Linked DNA regions of Homo sapiens. The protein of the gene in region 2 purifies or fractionates together with the protein of the main gene of each other region. This does not show direct contact. Each region holds a gene or a part of one and is shown on either strand. Other genes may lie near its edges. The genes, in order: NLRP3, DHX33, POTEI, E2F3, KRR1 and ZCRB1.

Evidence for each region.
Region 1: the proteins of DHX33 (region 2) and NLRP3 purify together in Homo sapiens (affinity purification with western blotting, with the first as the bait; one study listed by BioGRID). This does not show direct contact.
Region 3: the proteins of DHX33 (region 2) and POTEI purify together in Homo sapiens (affinity purification with mass spectrometry; one large-scale study listed by BioGRID and IntAct). This does not show direct contact.
Region 4: the proteins of DHX33 (region 2) and E2F3 purify together in Homo sapiens (pull-down; one large-scale study listed by IntAct). This does not show direct contact.
Region 5: the proteins of DHX33 (region 2) and KRR1 purify together in Homo sapiens (co-immunoprecipitation; one large-scale study listed by IntAct). This does not show direct contact.
Region 6: the proteins of DHX33 (region 2) and ZCRB1 purify together in Homo sapiens (co-immunoprecipitation; one large-scale study listed by IntAct). This does not show direct contact.

Annotation. Positions count from the first base shown.
Region 1 is NC_000001.11:247,419,162-247,423,014, forward strand, and holds part of NLRP3 (NACHT, LRR and PYD domains-containing protein 3), read left to right. Parts: intron 1-3,853. UniProt on the Homo sapiens protein: Sensor component of the NLRP3 inflammasome, which mediates inflammasome activation in response to defects in membrane integrity, leading to secretion of inflammatory cytokines IL1B and IL18 and pyroptosis.
Region 2 is NC_000017.11:5,466,006-5,470,452, forward strand, and holds the start of DHX33 (ATP-dependent RNA helicase DHX33), read right to left. Parts: upstream 2,978-4,447; 5' UTR 2,855-2,977; coding exon 2,566-2,854; intron 1-2,565. UniProt on the Homo sapiens protein: Implicated in nucleolar organization, ribosome biogenesis, protein synthesis and cytoplasmic dsRNA sensing. Stimulates RNA polymerase I transcription of the 47S precursor rRNA.
Region 3 is NC_000002.12:130,485,252-130,489,104, forward strand, and holds part of POTEI (POTE ankyrin domain family member I), read right to left. Parts: intron 2,948-3,853; coding exon 2,781-2,947; intron 1-2,780.
Region 4 is NC_000006.12:20,474,858-20,478,710, forward strand, and holds part of E2F3 (transcription factor E2F3), read left to right. Parts: intron 1-3,853.
Region 5 is NC_000012.12:75,497,856-75,501,708, forward strand, and holds part of KRR1 (KRR1 small subunit processome component homolog), read right to left. Parts: exon of another isoform or gene 2,097-3,853; coding exon 1,954-2,096; 3' UTR 1,124-1,953; coding exon of another isoform or gene 969-1,123; 3' UTR 866-968; coding exon of another isoform or gene 839-865; 3' UTR 1-838. Other genes in the region: GLIPR1 (glioma pathogenesis-related protein 1 precursor), read left to right, coding at 839-865, 969-1,123. UniProt on the Homo sapiens protein: Part of the small subunit (SSU) processome, first precursor of the small eukaryotic ribosomal subunit.
Region 6 is NC_000012.12:42,315,776-42,319,628, forward strand, and holds part of ZCRB1 (zinc finger CCHC-type and RNA-binding motif-containing protein 1), read right to left. Parts: intron 2,124-3,853; coding exon 2,012-2,123; intron 1,673-2,011; coding exon 1,565-1,672; intron 1-1,564.

The DNA.
Region 1 (3,853 bases), on a different chromosome or scaffold from region 2:
ATATTTTTTTTTGAGACGGAGTTGCTCTTGTTGCCCAGGCTGGAGTGCAATGGTGAGATCTTGGCTCACTGCAACCTCCACCTCCCGGGTTCAAGCGATTTTCCTGCCTCAGCCTCCCAAGTAGCTGGGATTACAGGCATTGCACCTCCACGCCCGGCTAATTTTGTATTTTTAGTAGAGATGGGGTTTCTCCATGTTGGTCAGGTTGGTCTCAAACTCCCGACCTCAGGTGATCCACCCGCCTCGGCCTCGCAAAGTGCTGGAATTACAGGTGTGAGCCACCGCGCCCGGCCGTAATAATTTTTAAATGTACAGTTCAGTAGTGTTAGGTACACTCACATTGTGCAACCAGTCTCCAGAACTGTTTTCATCTTGCAAAACTGAAACTCCTCACCCATTGAATGATAACTCCTCATTGCCTCATTCTCCCAGCCCTGGTAACCACCATTCTATTTGCCATCTCTGTGAATCTTACTACTCTGGGTACCTCATATAAGTGGAAACATACAGCATTTTTTCCTTTATGAGTAGTTTATTTCACTCAGCATAATGTCCTCCGGGTTCAACTATGTTGTAGCATGTGTCGGAATTCCCTTCCTTTAAAAAAGACTGTATAAATACTCCATGGTACCATATACCAAATTTTGTTTAGTTATCTGTTGATGAACACCTGGATTACTTCTACCTTTTTGTTATTGTTAATGCTGTTATGAGTGTTGGTGCACAAATATCTCTTCAAGACCCTGCTTTGAATTCTCTGGGGTATATACTCAGAAGTGAAATTTCTGAATCATACGGTAATTCTGTTAAATATTTTGAAGAACTGCTCTACTGTTTTAGATACCATCTGCACCATTTCCCACCAACAGCACACAAGGGTTCCAATTTCTCCATATCCTAAGAACACGTTATTTTTATTTATTTTTTCTTTTTTATAGTAGCCATTCTAATGAGTGTGAGGTGGTATCTCACTGTAGTTTTGATTTCCGTTTCCCTAATGATAAGTGATGCTGAGCACATTTTCACTGCTTGTTGGCCATTTATAGAGCTTCTTCAGAGAAAGTTCTGTTCAAGTTCTTTTCTCATTTTCAGACCAGGTTTGGCTTTTGTTGTTGCCTTGTAGGAGTTCTTTATGTATTCTAGATATTAACCCCATATCAGATATATGATTTACAAATATTTTCTCCTATTCTGTGGGTTGTCTTTTCATTTGGTTAACTGTGTCCTTTGATGCACAGAAGTTAGTATGATTTTTTTTTTTTTAAATCATGGCCGGGCATGGTGGCTCATGCCTGTAATTCCAGCACTTTGTGAGGCTGAGGTGGGTGGATCACCTGAGGTCAGGAGTTCAACACCAGCCTGGCCAACATGGCAAAACCCCATCTCTACTAAAAATACAAAAAAAATTAGCCGGGTGTGGTGGTGGGCACCTGTAATCCCAGCTACTCAGGAGGCTGAGGTAGGAGAATTGCTTGAACATGGGGAGTGGAGGTTGCAGTGAGCTGAGATTGCACCACGGCACTCCAGCCTGGGCTAAAGAGCAAGACCCTGTTTCAAAAAAAAATTTTTTTTTCTTGTATTGTCTTGGTTTTTTCTCTTTTCCCCTCTCACGGTAGTGCTATGAGAAGGTGGAGGCAAACTGTTTGCTTTCTCTAACTCCTTTAAAAAGCTGATGCAGACTGTACCTACCCCCTGGGCACCTGCCATGATTAGTCCCTCTTTATCTGAATCTCAGCAGTGCCTAGACCTGCCTCCAATTCTCCATCCAGCTTCTCAGACCACATGTTTTGTCCAGTATCTGCTGTGTGGTCAGCAGGCTTGGGCCTCTGCTTCCTATGGCCCAGAGGGCAGCCTCTCTCCTTGAAGAACCGTGGAGTTTGGGGCAGAAGCCTTTCCTTTCACCACCACTTTGGGAATTGGAATGTAAAAGAAATTCTCTTAATCCCCATGTACACATTGGGGATAAGGTTCTTTCTTTTGTCTTGTGTTCTAGGCAAAGGTAGGGCTCAGAGAAGGGCAGGGTATTGCAGGATGATGATGTAGAGCTGGTGGTGATGGGAAGGAGGAGTACAAATGAGTCAGTGGATAGGGAGACACATGTTAAGGCAGGGCAGCAGTGTGGGTGTAATGACACTGGGGAAACAGACAGCAGTGTGCAGCCGGGGGAGGTCAGAAACCAGTTGCTGCAATGGCTCTCACCTGTAGTCCCAGCTACTCAGGAGGCTAAGGCAGGAGGATCGCTTGAGCCCAGGAGCTCAAAACCAGCCTGAGCAACATAGGGAGACCTCATCTCTAAGTAAATAAAGCAATTATCATTGTGTCAGTACTTATATACTCACATACCCAAATGAAAGTGTCATAATCACAACTGTAGAAGTACTTTGCTAAGCAGTTTTTATGGATTTTATGGCACATTCAAGAAACCCATGAAACAGCTTCTGGTATTATCCCTCCTGCAAGTGAATGAGGTGAGCCTGGAAGAGATCCTAACTGGCCCATGGTTTATTTCTAGCCATAACCAGAGCTGGGGTAAAAAGCAGGGCATGTCTCTGATCAAAGCCTGGCTCTTAACCACTACACCGTCTTTGCTTCCATATCTGGATTTTGAGGCAGAAAAGTTATAACTAGGGTTAGAAGTTTGTTTGTTTGTTTCCTGGGGTGGGGTTAGGTTTTAGGTAATAGACTTTGGCTAATTTACTGTCATGGCTCCTACCTGAGTCCCAGTTACTCAGGTGGCTGAAGTGGGTGCATCACTTGAGCTCAGGAGTTCCAGGCTGGAGTGAGCTATGACCATGCCACTGCCCTCCAGCTTTGGAAACAAAGCAAGACTCTGTCTCTTAAAAAAAAAGAATAAGATTTTGGTTTTGGCTTAGATTTTTTGGATTTTATTTTGTGATATGGTTACCAAGTAGACAGCTGTCAGAGGTCTTTTATGGGCTGGGCGCAGTGGCTTATGCCTGTAATCCCAGCACTTCAGGAGGCCAAGATGGGAGGATTGCTTGAGCCCAGGAGTTTGAGACCAGCCTGGGCAACATAGTGAGAACCTGTCTCTACAAAAAATGCAAACATTAGTTAGGTGTGGTGGCACGTGTCAATAGTCCCAGCTGTTCTGGAGGCTGAGGTGGGAGGATCACTTGAGCCCAGGAGGTTGAGGCTGCAGGGAGCCATGATTGTGTCATTGCACTCCAGCCTGGGCAATAGAGTGAGGCCCTGTCTCAAAAAAAAAAAAAAAATCATTTATGTTACTTGTAGATTCCTGCCCACCTGAAGTTATCTGTCTTATATATTTCCCCTAGTGACTAACTCTTGTTTTACCTAACCTGAATTTCTCCTATAGAATGCCTTCTTAAGATATGCTATCTAGTGACTGTTTGGATTTGTGATTCTCAACACAGATGCATGTTGGAATCACCTGGGAGCTTTTAGTATGTGATGGTTCCTGGGCCTCACCTCAGAGGGACTGAAAAAGAACCTCTGGGCGTGCAGTCCTGAAGTCCATATTTTTAAAGCTTCCTGGGTGATTCTAAAGTCAGCCAGGATTCCCAACCACTAGATTAGGCACGAAATAGACTGGTCGTTCTCACTCTTGAAGAACCAGACATCTAGACTTGACAATAGAAGACGTGTGTAAAATGGATTGCAGGGAACTGCGGTCAGGGAAGGGTGACCTTTCTTAGCCCACAGCCGTGTTGGGGATATAGGAGAGCTTGGAGATGCCCTCACAATCAGGCTGCCAGGGGCAGGCAAAAGCAAACGAGGGTAAAAGAAACTTAGCCTGCTTCGCATGTTTGCTGATTGATTTCCAGGCCTGAGGAAGAGATTCTGAGACTGGGGACAGTGGGAACACATGCTT
Region 2 (4,447 bases):
CCCCCATGCCTCCTGATCTTTGCTCTGTTAGCTCGATTCTATCTTCTGCCTCCCTCCCTACTGAGTTCTTCCCCTCAACCTCTGAATACAGATGGTCCCTGTCTTAGAACTGTTTGACTTCAGGATGGAGCAAAAGTCAAAATCGTACAGTAGAAACTGTACTTTTGAGTACCCACACAACTGTCACTTTCAGTATGGTATTCAATAAATTGCATGAAATATTCAAGACTTTATTATAAAATAGGTTTCATGTTAGATAATATCACCCAACCATAGGCTAATGTACATGTTCCGAGCACACTGAAAGTAGGCTGGGCATATTAAATGCATTTCCAACTTAGGATATTTTCAACTTATGAGGATGGGTGGATTCATCCACACATAACCCCATCCTAAATCGAGCAGCATCCATAAAGTTTCTCTCAGCTTCCCTCCTTTTTCCTCAAAACAGAAGCCTCTTCCCCCTGCTTTCAGCCCTCAGCTCAATGACAAATCAGCTGTTACCCACACAGCTTTGTTGAAATAGCTCTCGATGGGATGGATCCACGATCAATAGTGTCAGAGATAGTCTGTGAAAGTCATGAAAAATTTTATGAGAGGAAATGTATGCAAGAAATGTTTTACAATTTAAAAGTGATTAGGCCTCCTGAATGCTTTATAAAATGTCACCATAACTCTTAGCTGTAGAACTTGCCTGCTTTGCAGCTAGGTAAAACCTAGGACACATGGAGCTAAATGCTGAAATAAGCCAGACCTTAACTGCACTTCTGTCTAAGTCCTAGGCTGTACACCTAGCACATAATTAAAATCCCGAACTTACCAAGGTTTTCAACAAAGGTAAAGGTTGCTAAAAGTTAACAGTGTAACATGTATTTAAAACTATTGAAGAGACACTTTATGTGCAAGGTGTGTAAGGAAAGTAAAGTACACTTTCGGTAAAAAGATTATCAGGAGGGATAAGAATGCACATTTTTACCTACGTTAAAAGGTTAAATAATTGTTTTGAGGGGGCCAGGTGCGGTGGCTCACGCCTCTTTCTATATCAACCAATCGGGCCTAGTAAAAAGCGCTGCTAAAAAACGTAAAGAAAAGGCTAAAAAGCTAAGGGAGTACCAAAACCACCAAATGGACTCTTGGTTTGAAAACAAAATCATAGCATGGGTCATCCCATTCCTGGGCCCTCTCCTAATAATATGCCTGGAACTAATGTTCTTACCCTGCCTAATTAATCTTTTTCAAAGATTTTTAACTGACAGGATCATGGCAATTTCACAAACAACTACCCAAAAACATCTACAGACGGCATTGCTCCTAGTCAACCCGAGACCAGGAAACTCTCCATCCCCTCGTTGCAGGAAGTAGCCAGAAAGAACATGCCGTCCCTCCTCCTTTTTATAACTATAGGGTCTGGATTGACAAAGCAGGAACATCACCATCTTGGACAAGCCCCTCATTCAAAAGTTCACCTTAATAAAAAACCGCCTAAATCCAAAAGGTATCAGCCTAATGGCTAAGGTCAGCACGACCATAAACCACAAATAACATCTCCAGCCAGAAACATTCCAAACTCCTCCCCGACCAGAGACATGTTAAGGGATAACCCCACTCTGGCCGGGAATATGCCAGCCGGGAATATGCCAGCCGGGAGATAAACCCCCTCGGGCCGGAAAAATGTCTGCCCCAAGATAACATCCCCTGCTCCCAAAGAGTCCAACCCTGCCAAAAACTTCTCCACACATATAAACATTCCAAGCTTGTGATAAGCCCCCTCACCCTAACACCAATATATACTCTTAGTCTGTAAGAGAAAGGGCTCCTGACCGAAATCGGCCAGGAGCGCCTCTCAGGTTTTAACTAAAGAAAAGCTGTCTTTAACTGCCAGCCGCGTTTCGTGTTTCTTTCCTTTTTCTTTAACTCTTACAAATAGCTCACATCCAAATCCAGTGGGCATCACATCCAAGTCCAGTATAACCGGACTTGACTGCTGCATCTGCTCACTCTCTATTCCTTTGACTAGCAGCACTCATGGGTCTCCTTCCTCTCTTTGGCTGCTCATCCTTTCCGTCCTTCAGTATCTCCTCTAACACGTTGGGGATCATAAGCCCCATGAAATCAGTCCCTGCCCCACAACTCTGCCTCTTTTCATGCACCAGAAACTACACCTTCCCTTTCGACCGGAATGTGTTCAGGTTCCCATCTCTCAAACGGGCTTTCCCCCCTGCCTAGAATGCCCTCCCTCCCACACGACCTCCCCAGCCGCCTCCTCACAAACCGGGTCAGATCCACTCTTCTAAGATCCGCAAGCCCCCGGTACGTTTCTCTACCCTTTTACGCGGAAGGTGAGTCTTTGCCTACACACGTTGGTCACTCTCACCGGGCTGTCCAGCGCCTCCAGGGCAGGGCTGCCGGACTCTTCTTCGAGGCCCCTCTCCAGGTCTGGCCCAGAAAAGGTATTCAGGTTTGTTGAAGCCACGAACGAAAGGGATTGAGAGGCATGTAAGAAAAACTGCTCTAGCTAAGCCACGGACGAAGTGCAAGGAAGAGCCCGCCGGCGCGGCCACTCACCGATGAGGACCGCGTTGTCCAGGTTTCGGAGCTGGGCCAACAGTTGCCCCCGCGCTTGGAAGATGGGCAGACTCCGGCGCTGCAGCTCCACAGCTTCAGGGTAGGGACTGGCCGAGGGCTGGGCCAGGGGCGGCTGCTGCCTCCGGCCTCCTCCTCCTCCTCTGCCGCCGCTGCCCGCAGTCAGCAGCATCACCACTTGCCTCCCGGGAGGGAAGGACCCAGCGCGGCTCGGAGGTCCAGAGCCTGGCCGGAATCTCTTGGCCGGCGGGAAGCCCGCCTCCTCCGGCATGTCGGGAGGGCACCGCGGCGGGAGGCGCAAGCGCCGAGAGCTCCTGCCCCCTCTCAGGTGCAGACAACAGGAGCACACCGCCCCTTCCTCGCCGCCACGTGCTGGCGGCTCCCGGCGACCACCGATGACCTCACGGCCGCCCCAGTCTTTAGAAAAAGGGACTGCATCTCCCAGCATGCCTTGGGGGCTTGGGAAGGCTTTCACTTCCTGGGGGTGGGAAAAGCAGGGCCTGAGGTACAACCAGGAAAAGGCCCGGAGCTACAACCGGGAAACACAGGATGTAAGGTTCCGTGGGACTGTAGTCTTGGTTAACGAGGTTTTTCTCATTGTTTTATTTTTTTTTTTTGAGATGGAGTTTCGCTCTTGTTGCCCAGGCTGGAGTGCAATGGCGCGATCTCGGCTCACACTGCAACCTCCGCCTCCTGGGTTCAAGCGATTCTCCTGCCTCAGCCTCCCAAGTAGCTGGGGTTACAGGCGTGCGCCACCGGGGCCCGTCTAATTTTGTATTTTTAGTAGAGACAGGGTTTCTCCATGTTGGTCAGGCTGGTCTTGAACTCCCGACCTCAGGTGATCCGCCTGCCTCGGCCTCCCAAAGTGCTGGGATTATAGGCGTGAGCCACCGCGCCCCGCCCATTGTTTTGTTCTAGTAGCATTACTTCTTTTCAGTAAACCCGCGTTTTCCCCTTCTCTGTCCAAATAACAGTCACTCTTCAAGGAAAGTACTTAATTCTGTAAAATCAATGAGAAGCGCAAACGTGCATTGTCTAATCCTCTAAACAACTTATAAGTTATGTGGTATATACTGGTTATTAGATTATCTCTAATTTACAGATTAAGAAATTGAGTCATCTTAGTCATTCAGATGTCCCCAAATCATAATTTTGTGATCATCTTGTGTTACAGAAAGGAAAACCAATTCTGATATACATGAATTTAACTCAGAAAATGACTCCTCCAACGGATGTGGTCGCCTCCAGTAATACAAGCAGAGAAAGGAGGGAGTTCAATGAAATTAAAATTGTCTTTTATCTTTCCTTTCCCCCAACCATTCCAGCCAGACTCTCAAGTTCTCTACATGGCTGTGCAACCCCATCACAGACACTTCAGTGAAGATTCAGAACTGCAGCAGAAAAAAGTAGGATTATAACTAGTTCTTCCTTACCCTCCTAAAAGTTCTTAGATGATTTGCTAATTTACCACGGAGAATGCCAAGTAGCTGTTTGCTCTTACAGGAAATGTGATTTCCAGAGAATACACCGTAAGCTTCAGCTCATGTGAAGGGTATCTTCTGAAGCTCGTTTCCATGAAACTCGCCCTGTTAAATATCTCCCTTCCCGTGATTCGTGAGAGAGCTAGTCTAAAAACAAAAAACCTCCCCTTTGCTCCAGGTCGGAGATAATTTTCCTCTAGTTGCTGACAGTTTGGTGACCAGGCATTACTGAAAATGTGCACGTTGAACCAGCAGCAGATTTGTGTTTAAGAATAAACTGACAAATTTTCACTTCCTACCCTGAAATATTTAGAAAGGCAACCCAAAACTACAAGGGATAATAAATGTTAACTCTCAAATTATGGACTTTGAGTAAAGACATC
Region 3 (3,853 bases), on a different chromosome or scaffold from region 2:
TCCCAACACTTTGTGAGGCCAAGGCAGACAGATCACCTGAGATCAGGAGTTTGAGACCAGGCTGGCCAACATGGGGAAATGCTGTCTCTACTAAAAATACAAAAATTAGCCAGGCATGGTGGCACACACCTGTAATGCCAGCTACTCAGGAGGCTGAGGCAGGAGAATCACTTAAACCCAAGAGGCAGAAGTTGTAGTGAGCTGAGATCACACCACTGAACTCCAGCCTGGGGGACAGAGTCAAACTCCGTCTCAAAAAAAGAAAAAGAAAAAGTCAGGAGAAAGAAGATTGAGGACTGAGCCCTGGGAAACAACAATGTCCAAAAGGAGAAAGATGAGGAGGAGCAAGCAAAACAGACCATGATGAATGGACTAGAAATGCAGGAGGAAAAGCTTGAGGGAGTGAGGTCCTGAAAGCCAAGTGAAGACGCCGTTAGGGAGGAGACGCCCTCCACTGGCTCAAATATTGCTGACAGATTAAATAAAATGAGGTGTAAGAAAAAATGCATAATTTACAGAAAAAAAATTGTGATAATCTTGAGGAAAAACAATGTTGGAGGACTGCTGAAATTGAAGACGCCGGTGTGAGATTAAGAGTGAATGAAAAGAAAATTTGAGTTCGTGAGTGTGGACAGTTCTTTTAAGGACATCATGCTTAGGAGTCATGACTGAGAATGTTGTAATTTTCTTCCACAGTCATGGAAAAGTAATAGACAAATAGTTTCAAGTTTTATATAACAGGTGTAGTTTTCAAATTTTATATAACAATAATATATTTTAAAGGTTATAAAAATTATACACATGTGGCATTAAAAATGCCAGACTGAGGTGTTAAATTCTTAAAACTATAGAACTAAAAGTCGCCTTGAACATTTCTAGATTACACATAAGCTGATTATCATTTTATTCATGCTTATGCATAAAGACCAAGAAATACTAAAAGTTTCAAGGAGAGTATTTCTTGCTTGATAAAATCAGCCAATTCTAGGACAACTGATACTCATCAAATATACAAAGTAATTGATCACAGCAAAATACTGGGTTCTATTAACAGGAATAAAGTGGGAGAAATGCAGACAATAATCTTATTTTATAAATGAAATTTTTAAAATTATATGAAGTCACTGTGGAAAAATATGGTGAGGTGAATACTGAAATATATCCTTTTCTCAAAGGAAGGATAATTTCACACACGCAGGGCACTTTTACAAATAAGAGTCACTTCACTTGCAGCACCTTCCTTTTAGCACAAGGGTCAGCAAACTAGCACCTTGGGCCAAATCCAGCCCACTGCCTGTTTTTGTAAGTCAAGTATTTTGGAACACAGCCATGCTTATTCACTTTACAGTCCACAGTGTCAATTAGCTGGGTGTGATGTTGCACACCTATGGTCCCAACTAGTAGAGAGGCTGAGGTGGGAGGATCACTAGAGCTCAGAAAGTCAAGACTGCAGTGAGCCATGATCACACAACTGCACTCCAGCCTGGGAAACAGAGTGAGACCCTGTCTCAAAAATAAATTAATTTATATAGTCCACAAAGCCTAAAATATTTACTAACTGGCTCTTTGCAGAAAAAGCTGGCCAACTCCTGGTTTAGCAGATGAAAGATCCTTTGATACATTTTAATAAAAGTTTTACCCAATATACTGAAACGTTTATATTAAATACAGATCCCCATGTACAATCCCTTGGCAATATTCAGATTGAGGGTCCAATATTTCAGCACTCAGGCACTGACATAAAAATTTAATAACTAGCAATCTTGTTGCTAACAAGGTACAGCATCAATATAGCATGTAGCTTCCATTTGCAACACAGGAAATATTACAAGAATTTTAACAAGAACTCTTAAGATGTCATCACTGATGCTTTAAATACACTTTAATTGTGAAATAATCAGTATACTCTAGATCTAACCTCACTTGTAAAAAATGGTTGCATACTACATTAATTTCTGGGTATGAAAATTGAGCTATTTCCTATTGGTAATGATTTACTTTTGATAATGATAATTTCCTATTGATAAGGATCCATCTTTTTGATATAATAATGCTGTAATAAATGTCCTTATACATAAGTATATATGTAACATCTACACAAATATCCTTTACATATATTATATATCCTTATTGTTATACATGTGTTTGTGAATATGCTACTAAATTAATGTTCAAAATGTATTTACCAGCAGTGTATGAAATGTCTTTTACAATGAAACCATTTCTTTTGCAGCAACACAGATGGAGCTGGAGGCCATTATCCTAAGCAAACTAATGCAGGAACAGAAGATCAAATGCCACATATTCTTACTCATTAGTGGGAACTAAATAATGAGAACTCATGGACACAAAGAGGAGAATAACAGGCACCAGGGTCTACTTGAAGGTGGAGCGTCACGGGAGGGAGACGACCAAAAAACTAACTTTTGGTGTTTTGCTTATTATGTGGCTGATGAAATAATCTGCAGTCCAAATCTCCATGATACACTTTACCTATATAATAACCCTGCACATGTACCCCTGAAACTAAAAGAAAAGTTCACTAAAAAGAAAAGAAAATGCCTTTTCCCTCACATTTGCCAATACTGGTTATTTTTCAAATAAATTAATGCCTGGAAAAATGGTAACTCATTGTTCGCTGATTTTCATTTTTCTGATTAACGGGCAAGGCTGAATATCCTAGTAAAACTATAAAATTTGTTCATCATGAATATTAGCCCAAACTAGGGTTAGTTTGACAGCACATAGTTATCTCCTGTTCAATGTTGCCATAGGCTTACCTGTGATACTCTTCACTTTCGTTGTCAGGAAATTGCTGATTTTCAGGTGTTCTGCTCTTCCTTTGAGGAATTAATCCATCATCACCATTGCCAGCAGTGACACCATTACTCAGGTTTTCTAGTAATCCCACATTATTACTTTCATGCTTCTTCATTTCTTCTTCAACCTTGAGTGGGATATTAAGGATAGTTATCACTTTATTGAATAAAAAGAACCTTTTTAATTGATTCTATCAATTGACTCAGTTTGTCATTATTTTAGTCATTAAAAATATTTCACACTTAAATTTGATCATATATATAGAAATATTACCATATAACTTTAAGATGTAATTATCATATCATTAATATATCACAGAAATTTTTGTAAAGTTTGCTTCATTTCTGTTTCAATGAATGAAACAGAATTTTCCAAAATTCAAAAAGGGCCCTCCTTCATTTTATGCTTTTATTCTCAATCACTCTTCAGAATCTTATGTATGTATTTACCCCATTTGACTCATGGGAACACGCAAATAAAAAGACAAAGATGCAAAATGTGTCTTCTGTCTTTACCACCTAGATTTTACATTAAACAGTCAGATTTAGAGGATGACACACTGTGCGGCTTCAGGAACAGAAAGGAAGTTTGCCCTTTTCTGCGCTAAGATATTCTTCTACCCCACTGCCTTTGAGCATTCTTTTTTCATTTGGTTGCTGGGATATCAAAAACATGATGGTGCTCACTGAAAATGGGAGCCAAAGTTTGCCACAACACAAGAAGCAGAGTGAAACTGCTGACGTGCAAGCATGGAATTCCAGAAAATGAGATGCTCCCCAAATTTCACATTGAATAGCCATACAATTTTCTAGCTGGAAGATACACAGAATAAGAAGCTATCTTCTTTAGCCACATTATCTATTGATAATCAGACTAAAACCAAGAAAGATAAAATGATTGGTCCAAAGCTCCTAAAGTGGCATTACCTAGCATTTTATGGCACCATTCAGGATTGTTCCATAATAATCAAAGAATATCTCTAGGCTTTGTATCTCTTGAAAACTCAAAGTACAGAATTCTTTCTGAGTTAAAT
Region 4 (3,853 bases), on a different chromosome or scaffold from region 2:
AGTTCCGCCCTCCCTGTTCACTCAACAGGGGAGGAAAAATAACAGGATAACCCAACGGGAACCTCCCTTCTGAAAAGGGGAAATGACATAAAGTGCTCACCTCCTGCTTCTTGTCATGTCCTCCACAGGGACAGCAGTTTGTAGAGCCTATAAGTCCACCCCAAGTTCCACCTCCTGGGAGGAATTCTGGGGCTGCCCCTTCTTCACACCTCACTTATTTCTGGCGTGGCTTTTGGACCTAGTGATTGATTTCCTTAGAGGTTCAACATCATGGACCTTCACTTTCTAGACTTAGTGATTCTTTCGCAATAAAAGTGCCTTGCAATTTTAGTAGCTTGTCCATCTAGCATTCAAATTTGGTCAATTTATGGTTTGGTGCTTAGTAACGAGAGTTACACATGAAGACTAGTCCCGGTCTTTCGAAGTTAAGTCTCAGTCACTTAGCAGCAGACATGGAAATTTCCCTAACCTACAGTTTAATGGTTCCATAGGCCTTTGCCTCATGGCAGTCTGAAACAGCAGCCTGGGAGGGAGAGATAAAACTAGTATGCCCCCAGCCTGCTGACCAGTGGGTGGTTCTTTACTGCTGAGGCACGGCCCTAGGTCCCTAGGAGTTCTGGGTCCCAGACTCTTTTCCAAGTTTGCCTTCTTTCTGTTCACTTTATTTTCATTTTTTGAGACAAGAGTCTTTCTCTGTCATCCAGGCTGGATTGCGGAGGCACCAACCTCCACCTCCCAGGTTCAAGCAATTCTCATGCCCCAGCCTCCCAAGTAACTGGAACTACAGGTGCATGCTACCATGCTGGGCTACTTTTTGTATTTTTAGTAGAGTTAGGGTTTCACCAGGCTGGTCTCAAACTCCTGACCTCAGGTGATCTGCCTACCTCGGCCTCTCAAAGTGCTGGGATTACAGGCGTGAGCCATTGTGCCCAGCCCATTTGTTGACTTTAATTTGGGCAGAGAATACAGCTCTATGTCTCCTTAGATTGCTTTCTGTAGAGAAGGCCTCCATAGCAAAGCTGTTTTCTTTGAGGCGGGCCAGCCTCAGATGAAGTTTCTCTCTATCTGTAGTATCTTCCTGGCGGTCACAAGAAGTGACCAACACACTCTGCCACTCTCTAACAAGGCCTGCCAACTCCCTGTCACACCATAGCCATCTTGACTCAGCCAGTTCCATAAGCTGTCACTGGCAACAGCACAATTCTAGGTTCCCGACTCAAAACACTTGAAGCAGCTGGGCACGGTGGCTCACGCCTGTAATCCCAGCACTTGAGGAGGCCGAGGAAGGCGGATCACGAGGTCAGGAGATCAAGAAGATCCTGGCTAACATGGTGAAACCCCGTCTCTACTAAAACTACAAAAAATTAGCCGGGCGTGGTGGCGGACGCCTGTAGTCCCAGCTACTCGAGAGGCTGAGGCAGGAGAATGGCATGAACCCGGGAGGCGGAGCTTGCAATAAGTTGAAATTGCACCACTGCACTCCAGCCTGGGTGACAGAGCGAGACTCCGGGTCTCAAAAAAAAAAAATGCTTTAAGCAAAAAGGAGAGTTTATTGGCTAATGTAACTGGAAAGTCTGGGAAAGACCAACAGTTGCCCCCAGGGCATGACCAGAGCCAGAGTTTTGAGTGGTGGTCTCAGACCCCTCTCTCTCCTTCTCTCCACTCTGCTTTCCCCTGGGAAGGCCCCATTCTCAGGCAGCTTTAGGCTCCTCACTTACCAACCTTACTGGAAAGACATACCTGCTTCTTGCCAGATAGTTCCAGAAACATTCCTGGGGTTAGCCTTTGCTCCTCCAGCCTTGGTCATAAGCCATTCAACCTGTTCGCGGTGGGGGCGGGGAGGGCAGGATGGGCCACAATGATTAGCCAGGCCTGGATCACCTGTGTGCACAGATGCGCTTAGACCAGGAAAGGGATGGCTCCCCAAGGAACAAACAGGGAGCTTCTGCCTGATAAAGAGTGAATGTTTGCTGGACCAACCACAGCAGGCCCACACAAGGACTTGACAGAATGGCTGGGAGGGGAAGATGAAGTCCAGCAAGCAGATTGTCCTTCCGGAGCCATTAGAATGATGTTTAACTTAGCACTGCAGTAGAAAGATAAGGTGTGCCACTGAGGCAAGCCACATCGTAAAATATATATATAAAGAAACAGATGAAATAATTTTAATGCTACATCTGACCCATTAACAACATTGGGGTTAGAGGTGCCCTGACACAGTCAAAAATTTAGATAGATCTTTTGACTCCCCTAAACTTAACTAATAGCCTGTTGTTTGGGGTTTTCATTATTATTTTAGTGATGGGGGGTCTTGCTACGTTGATCAGGCTGGTCTTGAACTCTTGGCCTCAAGTCATCCTCCTGAGTAGCTGGGATTACAGGTGTGATCCATGCACCCAGCCCTAATAGCCTACTGTTGACTAGAAGCCTTACCAATAACATAAACAGTCATTAACACATTTCATATGGTATATGTATTATATACTGTATTCTTACAATGAAGTTAGAGAGGAAATGTTATCAATAAAAGAAAGTTTGGAATGAATGAAAGTGGAATCCACAGGATAGATTTCCCTCATCAGCCAAGCAGGACTAGAGGTGAGGGTGTGTGAAATAGGCCGTGCTGGGCAGAGCTGGGCTTTGCCTGAGTGTCTTACTCTTTTCCCTTATGATCTAAAGCCAGGTTTCTCCAACTTTAAGGTGTATCAGAATCACCTGGAAGGCCTGTTAGATTGCTCAGCCCCATTCCCAGAGTTTCTGATCCAATGCATCTTAGGTATGCTCTGGAATTTGCGTTTCCTAGCAGCTGAACTTGGTCCAGGGTTCAAAGTGTAGAAGGCATATGGGCATATAAAGCAGCTGGATGAAAAAAAAATCATAAGGAAGAGAAAATAGATTTACTATTCATTACTGGAAGTGGATCATCATAAAATTCATCCTCGTTATCTTCACATTGAGGAAGGTGTGGTGAAAGAAAAGAGGAGGGGTTGGTCTTACTGTCTCAGGGATGACAGAGGAAGAAGAAAACCCACATATAGGTGGACACACTCATGGCCGGGTGCAGTGGCTCACGGCTGTAATCCCAGCACTTTGGGAGGATGAGGCAGGAGGATCACTTGAGCCCAAGAGTTCAACACCAGCCTGGGCAACATACAGAGGCCCCATCTCTACCCAAAAAAAAAAAAATTTAAATTAGCCAGACATCATGGTGTGCACCTGTGGTCCCATCTACTCAGGAGGCTGAGATGGGAGGATTCCTTGAGCCTGGGAGGACAAGGTTGCAGTGAGCTGAGATCACACCACTGCACTCCAGCCTGGGCGGCAGAGCAAGACCCTGTCTCTAAAAAAATAAAATCAGTGGAAACGGACAGTCCAAACCCATGTTGTTCAAGGGTCAGTTGTATTTTATTTATTTCATTTAACATGTGATCACTACTAAAATTGTTGAGATATTTTACCCTGTTTTGTACTAAGTCTTCGAAATTCAGTGTGTATTTTACAATTATAGCACATGTCAGTTTGGATGAGCTAGTAACCAGTGGCTATCGTAGTAGACGGTGCAGGGTTAGCTGGTAACTTTCCATAGAGGGGCTGAATATCTAGCTTCCGCTGATAAGTTATTACTTACGTTTTCACATCACGGGGAGTTGTTTTGAAATTGCAACTCTCGGCTGGGTACAGTGGCTCACGCCTGTAATCCCATCACTTTGGGAGGCCAAGGTGGGCAGATCACCAAAGATCAGGACTTCGAGACCAGCCTGGCCAACATGGCGAAACCCCGTCTCTACTAAAAATACAAAAATTAGCTGGGAGTGGTGGCGTGCACCTGCAGTCCCAGCTACTTGGGGAGGGC
Region 5 (3,853 bases), on a different chromosome or scaffold from region 2:
TGTTTCAATAGTTGAATATTGAACATTTAAAAATATATATAAAAAAAAATAACTAGAACATCACACTCTTGATTTCATCGACATAACTGCCAAGAAAAGTGAGGGTAGCATATTTACAGTAATTCACCACAAAGCCCACTCACAGGTATGAAGACCAGGGATGCTCACCAGTACCCAGAGGACCAGATGATTGATGGGTTCTACCACGAGCATCTAATAGCGACTGCTGCAGAACTGGTGTGGAAAAGGTTTCTATTTTATAAAAGAAAGTATCCAGAAGGCTAAAGGCAGTTGTGGAATTTATTTCTTCCCAGTGCTCTGATTGTCAAAATTTGAATAAAGCTCAGTGAAAGGAGGACAGTAATTAATGACTTGATAGCCAAACATCGTAATGATGATTTAGTGATATACTAGACTGGATGAAAGAGAGGTCACTGTCTTTTCACTATGGATTCATCATAAACAGTATCATTCTTCTCAGGAAGAAACTTATTTTTAGAACTATATTTTAATAAATTTCTCACATTCTAATATTTAATTTTTATTTTTTAAATTTTATTACCTGCTAGGTATGATGTGTAAAATGATTTTCCATTTATAGTAATGGTATAGTTTCCTTTTTATAAAAGGTTTATAAAGTTTATGTAAAAAGTCAACTTAAAAATACCAAGTTAATTCAGTCAGTTCAAAAAGTTTTGAATAATTAAACTTGGAAAGTCACTGCAATAAAGCCAAAGCAAGTTAATGGTCATAATTATAAGACTTAGCTTTTTAAAATAAAACTCTCAACTGTGTCTACCCTTTTAATTTTTTTTCTTTCTTCCCCCTAACTTTACAGTTAACCGACAGCGAGACCAAGTCAAACGTACGTACATCAATCTTAAATTGTTTCATTAAGAGCTATGTGAATTCTGTCAGTGCATTATGAGGAACAATGTCTAAGAGGATATTCTATGTTTGTTTCACAGGTTACTACTCTGTTGTATATCCAGGCTGGCCCATATATCCACGTAACAGATACACTTCTCTCTTTCTCATTGTTAATTCAGTAATTCTAATACTGTCTGTTATAATTACCATTTTGGTACAGCACAAGTACCCTAATTTAGTTCTTTTGGACTAATACAATTCAGGAAAGAAAAAACCCAAAAACCAACCTCATTCACATATGGCTTTTTTTTTAACCAATAACAATTAGGTGTACTTCTATTTTAAAACATTTCAGAAAAAAATATATGTTATAGCAATACTCTTACTCAAAAGAAGAAATTTCCTAACTCTATCAGATAAACTCATCTTTAGTATAAATAAGCATTATTTGCAGGTTGCCACAGGTGGACTTTTAGTAAGTAACCTAACCCATGTTTCAGCTTCTAAATCTGCAAAATGAGCAAGGTACAGTAGCACATTTTTAGGTGATTCTTAGTAACTCCAGTAGCCTTCATTAGTTAAAAACATTATTATTTTTTGCATGCTGCTTCGACTCTAAATATCTGGTTTTCCCTGTCTTTTTGGTTTACTACTTCCCCAGATTCAGAACAGAGGAGTAACTAGGGGATCTGATTTTAGAGGCCTTAATTTTCTGTTCATGGACTGTTAAAAGTAAAACCAAACTTTCAAAAGGGATAAACCTAAATATTTACTTGTTATCATTAGAGAGGGAACATCAAATGCTGGGACATCATTACTAACCAATAGCATCAGACACTGGATTTAATGGATAATCACAATGGTCGTAATGTATACAAAGACTTATATACCACTTTCTCGTATAAATTTTTCAAAAAATACAATAATAATATAATTTATAAAGAACACTCTTCTATGAACAACCACCACCACCAAAAAAAAAAAAAGCCCTCAGAAAATTTCTCACAAATAAGGCAACTAATGCCTGATATCTCAAAATCCTTTACAAAAGGAGATAGTTCTAGTCAAGGAGTTTTGGGTATGTTACTTTTTTTTCTTCTTTTTCTTTTCATCTGCCTCCATCTTAAGTGCAATTTCTTCAGCTGTAAGAGCTCCCAGTTTCTTATTCTTTGCTTTCTTAACCTTTTCCTTGATGCTGGCCACATCAATTTTAGTTTCAGTAGAAGCTAGACAAATTAAAAGCACAACACATGTAATACTTTAGATTTTACCAAGTAAAACAAAGAATATATGTTTAACAAAGAATATATGTTTAAGGCAGTTAACTTCAGAGTATTCTTATAATTGAATAATTGAAAGGTGATCACAGTATAAAATATAAAAACACTTGCCTAAAGCAGTTAGAAATTTCTTCAGATTAAGATAAAACAAATCATAAAATACTTTATATATTAGTACAAGTATACATAAAAATGGCATAAATGGCATAATTGAACCAATTACTGGATTCAACTATATTAAGACTATTTCCTTAAATCCTACTTCAGACTAAATTATTTTACCTACATTCTTTTCCATATTTTGGAACTTCTGAGTCATTATTTTCCATCTTGCACATTAAAATAATTTAAAATTACATGTATCCCTTCTCAATAAGTTTAATCAGCTAACCCTAAGCTAGAGGTCAAAATCTACTTCCTCTAATATCAAAACGAAAATTTAAAGTTTTCCAAATATTAATTCAATATTAATTGAATATTCAATGAATTAATTCATTTAATGTTAGATTAATTCATTGAATATTAATTCAATGAATGACTAATTAATAGTATTTTAACAAGATTTTGGTATATTTAACAACATTTTGGTAATAAAGACAATAATTTGAGAGTGTGTGGAAGTCCCCCTAATAGAAGCCAACTATCTAATCAATGCCAAAAGTGTGAACAAAATAGAGAAAGGAAGCAGTGAAAAAGAATGCAACTTTTTCTTACCATTCAAAGTACAGGATCACAGCATAAAAGAATCATAAGATAAAACATCAAACTACCCAGCAACCTGAGAAGCACAGAGTGTTAAAGCCTCCACCGTGTGGAGAAACTAAATTAGGGTAACTAGCTATTGAGTATATTGAGTACCTTCAAAGCACTCAACTGACAGGTTTTACAGACTGGAAATTATAATACTTATGACATTTCTACCTTTTATATAACCAATAATCTACCATAGAATGTAGTATTTTTAAAGCTATTAACAAGCAATATATTAAAATAATAATGTATTATATCTGTTTCTGACCCAGTCTATGTACAATATTGCTGGTGAGCCCTCTCCCTTCAGTGTGTCACTGTTCACTTTGGAGGGTTACTTTAGGAAGAGGATAAGTGTTACCACAGGGGAAAAAAATGCAGAAGAGGATGCATCAGAAGAAATGGCATGACAATGTTTTCTCTTAGTGTCTTTTAAATACTAGGTTAGTGCGAAAGTGATTTCTGCCATTTAAAAACCACAATCACTTTCGCACTAATAGCTCCTGAATAAGACCTGTCAGCATCCTTTAGTCTAAGGTGATGAGAAATCCATGTTACCGATATAGAAGCCAAACTCTAAGCCAAGATCACATAAAGAGAAGAAAAAGTACAACTTCTGATAATTCCTCTTTGAGAGGCATGACAGCAGAGCTCAGGGATCTTCTTGCATTTCTACAGAAGATGCACTGGCTGCCCTGGGTTTGTATCTTTCACAACAAAGAGTCTTTTCCAAGCACAGACCAGAGGTCAGGAGAGGACTGTCAATCCAGTTTGCACTGAAATAGGCATTAGCTGCCTCTAAATTATAAATTATCTCAGCCATCCCTTGTCCTTAGGATTAGTAATTAATGAAATGCTAAGAGAACTGATGAAAAGATACAACTGTTTCTTAAAAAGATTCAGACAAATTTATTATGGGTTTACTTTTCCTAATTAATAAAGACTTTTACATC
Region 6 (3,853 bases), on a different chromosome or scaffold from region 2:
TTCTTTCTTTTACAAAACTCAAAACTTTGGAAAAGTTTCTAAAGTGTTTACTTAAGAGGTTTTAGAATCATAGGAATTGACAGAATCAGTATGTATCCAAGCAACTGCTTGCTCACTCTTTCTATTCATCCATCCATCAGTCTGTTTATTTAGTTATCTTTTTTGTCGGGGGTATGGGGAGTGACAGTGGGGTAGAGGACCTCAAGCCATTTCCTTGCATCTTCCATGTGATTTTGTAGCCAGGACGGTATCTTTCAGTGATTCTCTCCCCAGTTCCCCATTACTACCTCTGGACTCTGTTTTTTAAGTATTTTATTTTATGTTTATTTTTATTTTTGAGACAGAGTCTCCCTCTGTTGCCCAGGCTGGAGTGCAGTGGAGTAATCTCGGCTCACTGCAACCTCCACCTCCTGGGTTCAAGCGAGTCTCCTGCCTCAGCCTTCCAAGTAGCTGGGATTACAGGCACCTGCCACCATGCCTGGCTAATTTTTTTTTTGTATTTTTAGTAGAAACTCAGTTTCACTATGTTGGTCAGTCTGCTTTTGAACTCCAGACCTCAAGTGATCCGTCCACCTCAGCATCCCAAAATGCTAGGATTACAGGCGTGAGCCACTGTGCCCGGCCTGTTTCTTAAGTATTTTTATGGTCATTTTACAAACTTACACCTGTGAGAACCAGACTAAAATTCTCTTGGTACCAATACAGACCTTATACAAAATTATTCTATGGCTGTCTCTCTCTCTTCATCACCAAAACTTTAAATGGATAATGACAGATCATGAAGAGAACCAAAGAAGAAAATGTGGGGATAGTTCAGTTACAAAACACTAGCAATACTAATAGGAAAAAATAAAAAACTTCAAAACACAATATCCCATAGAGGATAAAGTCACATGATAATGTTGCTATTGAACTGTGACTTAAAAACTGTTAAAGAAACAGGCAATATCCTATTAACAAAAATTTATGAGTTACGAAAATCTTGCAAGACAGTGACATAAGTAATCAGTCTAACACTTTTAAAACTAGTGATTTTCAAAGATTTAGGAACTAGAGAAAATACCACTTTGTATTACCCAACTCAGGTTATCTTTACACATTGCATTTCAATTGAATTTACTTTGATGAGTTTAGAGACCCTAACAACTAGGCCAGGCACCATGGCTAACACCTGTAACTCTAGCACTTTGGGAGGCTGAGGTGGGAGGACTGCTTGAGCCCAGGAGTTTGAGATTGGCCTGGGCAACATAGGAAGACCCTGCCTCTACAAAAAAATTTAAAAATTAACCAGGGTGTGATGGTGCATGCCTGTGGTCCCAGCTACTCAGACACTGTGGTGGGAGGATCAGTTGGGCCCGGGAGGTAGAGGCTGCAGTGAGTTGTGACTGCATCACTGCACTGGGTGACAGAGGAAAACCCTATCTCAAAAAAATAAATATTAAAAAATAAAGCATTTTCATAATCTGGTTTAGCCAGTCAGAAGTTTTGGTGAGCAAAAATAAAAGACTGATGTGAAAAGTATCTTAAACTATGGAAAGTTCCATTAAGTTTTAGGTTTACTTACCCCACATTCATAACACTTAGATTTATCAAAGTAGTTTCGCCTTCGGATGAACTCAGCTGCTCTTCCATTGTCAATAGCAATGCTTGCTTTTATCACTCTACCAAATAACTAAACAAGAGAAAAATGTAAATGTAGAATGTATTTCACTGAAACCTAAAATTAATTATTTAATCAATTTTCTCAAATCTTCAATTCCAGTTTATTTTGGATTTTTTAGCAATTGTCACTTAGGTGTGATAAATTCTATTCTGTAGTATTCTTATTCCTGAGATTCCACCAATGTTTTGAGAACCCAGTAGTTTGACCTCTTTTCTTTCTATAAGTTAGATATCTTAAGAATCTACTGATATCTGCTAGACCTGATGATCCACTATATCCCCACATTTTTGGCCTGGATGAGCATAAAGGCTTTGGGGCTAAAAACCTTGATGGAGATGAATAGCTTACCTGTTTGTTGTTTATTGCCCTGGTACAGTTTTGTGCAGAGTCTTTATCCAAAAATAAAATAAATGCAACCCCTTTACTCTTCCTGGTATCTTTATCTTTCATGATGGTAACCCTTAAAGCATAAACAAAGAGTTAAAAATGAGGCAGCAATAAATAAAACAGATACTAATACTTGAAAAATTCATTTTAAAAAGGGCTAAAAATTTATAAGATAAATTAATACATTTGAAAAATCAGCTATCTCTTCAAAGTCAAGGGATATCAAGAATGGAAATGGGAAAGGGTGATACTGATTTAACAGAAGTGAGCACAGCTATGATTAGGAGTTAATCAGAGATTGAAGGGTGAAGTAAAGAAATTACAGAGACAATGAAATCTTAAAGTGTAACCACAATCCCTCTTCCATGCTAACTCCCTCACCTTGCAAAACAAAACAAAATAAAGGTATACTTTACACAAAAAGTAAAATGATTTATTTATTTTTCTAAGTGTTAGAATCAAAGTATATTCTTAATATTCTTTTAAAGAATCTTCAGAAAAATAAGGAAAAAAACCCTCCAGAGCTGGTTGTGGTGGTGCGCACCTGTAGTTCCAGCTACTTGGGAGGCAGAGGCAGGAGGATGCTTGAGCATGGGAGTTTGAGAACAGCCTGGGCAACATAATGAGACCCCGATCTTTAGGGAAAAAGAATCTCCAGTTCTGTGGTTTTTAGCCATACCACCCACCAGGGTGTACCTGAGTGACAAGGAGAGTTATGAGAGCACAGAGCCTGCTCTTTCTCCTGCCCCATCCACATCCCTAGTCATGGAGGCCCTTGCCCACCGTATGTCATTTAACATAGTTTAAAAACAATGTTCAACAGGGCTCTTTGGAGAAATAGCGGATTCCAAGGCTACAGCAGGGCAGGTACAAGAGGAGCTTGGAACATCTTATGCCAGAAGGTAAGAGAGTGCAAGAGTGCGTGAGCGAGTGAGAGAGAGAGAGACGGAGGGAGGAATGAATGAATGAATGATGGGGCCAAGAATACAGCAGCCAGCTGGAAGGAGCTCCCACTGGCCAAATCAAGGACAATTTGAGCATCAAAATAATTCATTACAGTAATAAATTATAAGCCACAGAGAAGGTAGGAATTTATAATTCTTACTGATAAAAGACCAATAAATAAGTGGAGGAGATGGGAGGGAAGGCTCTTGCTTACAACAGAATGCCAAGGGATGACTGGTGAATGTAGAGGGAATGCTGGAGTTGGAAAAATCACCAATTTGACAGAAATATTGAATAAGGTAGTTGCTTTATGTTTTGGAATTTTTCGTAATGTTTGTGAAAGTTATCAGTCTTTTTTTTTAAAGTAGTATTTCAAAAGAAGTATTGGCTTTCTACATCATCCTCAATTAATGATCTCTCATCTGTTGCCTCTTTTCCAATTCCACTGCTTTTTTCTTGTCCATAGGGGCATTACTGTTTTAACAGTCTATTCTTATTGGTTCCTTTATGGTAATTTTTTCTCTTATAATTTTCTCATATCCTTAAGTAGTCTTCTACTTAAGGAATAAATAAAATCACACCATTCCTTTGTTCAAAAATCTTTGGTTCTGTAAGTTGCCTATTCTTTGTCCCACTGTCAGTATCCTTGATGATTTGGCTCCCATCTCCTTCATCTTTCACTGCTCCTTCCCACGCACACACTATGAAGTCTACCCAAAAGAAACCACTCAATGCTCCAGTAGCATGGCCTGTATTTCCCCAAATTTGTGCCTTTGTTCATACAGCTTCTATCTTCTTCCACCTCTGAATCACTGCTCATTAAAATTTTCCTCATTCTTTCGGGGTTCAGGTCAATGT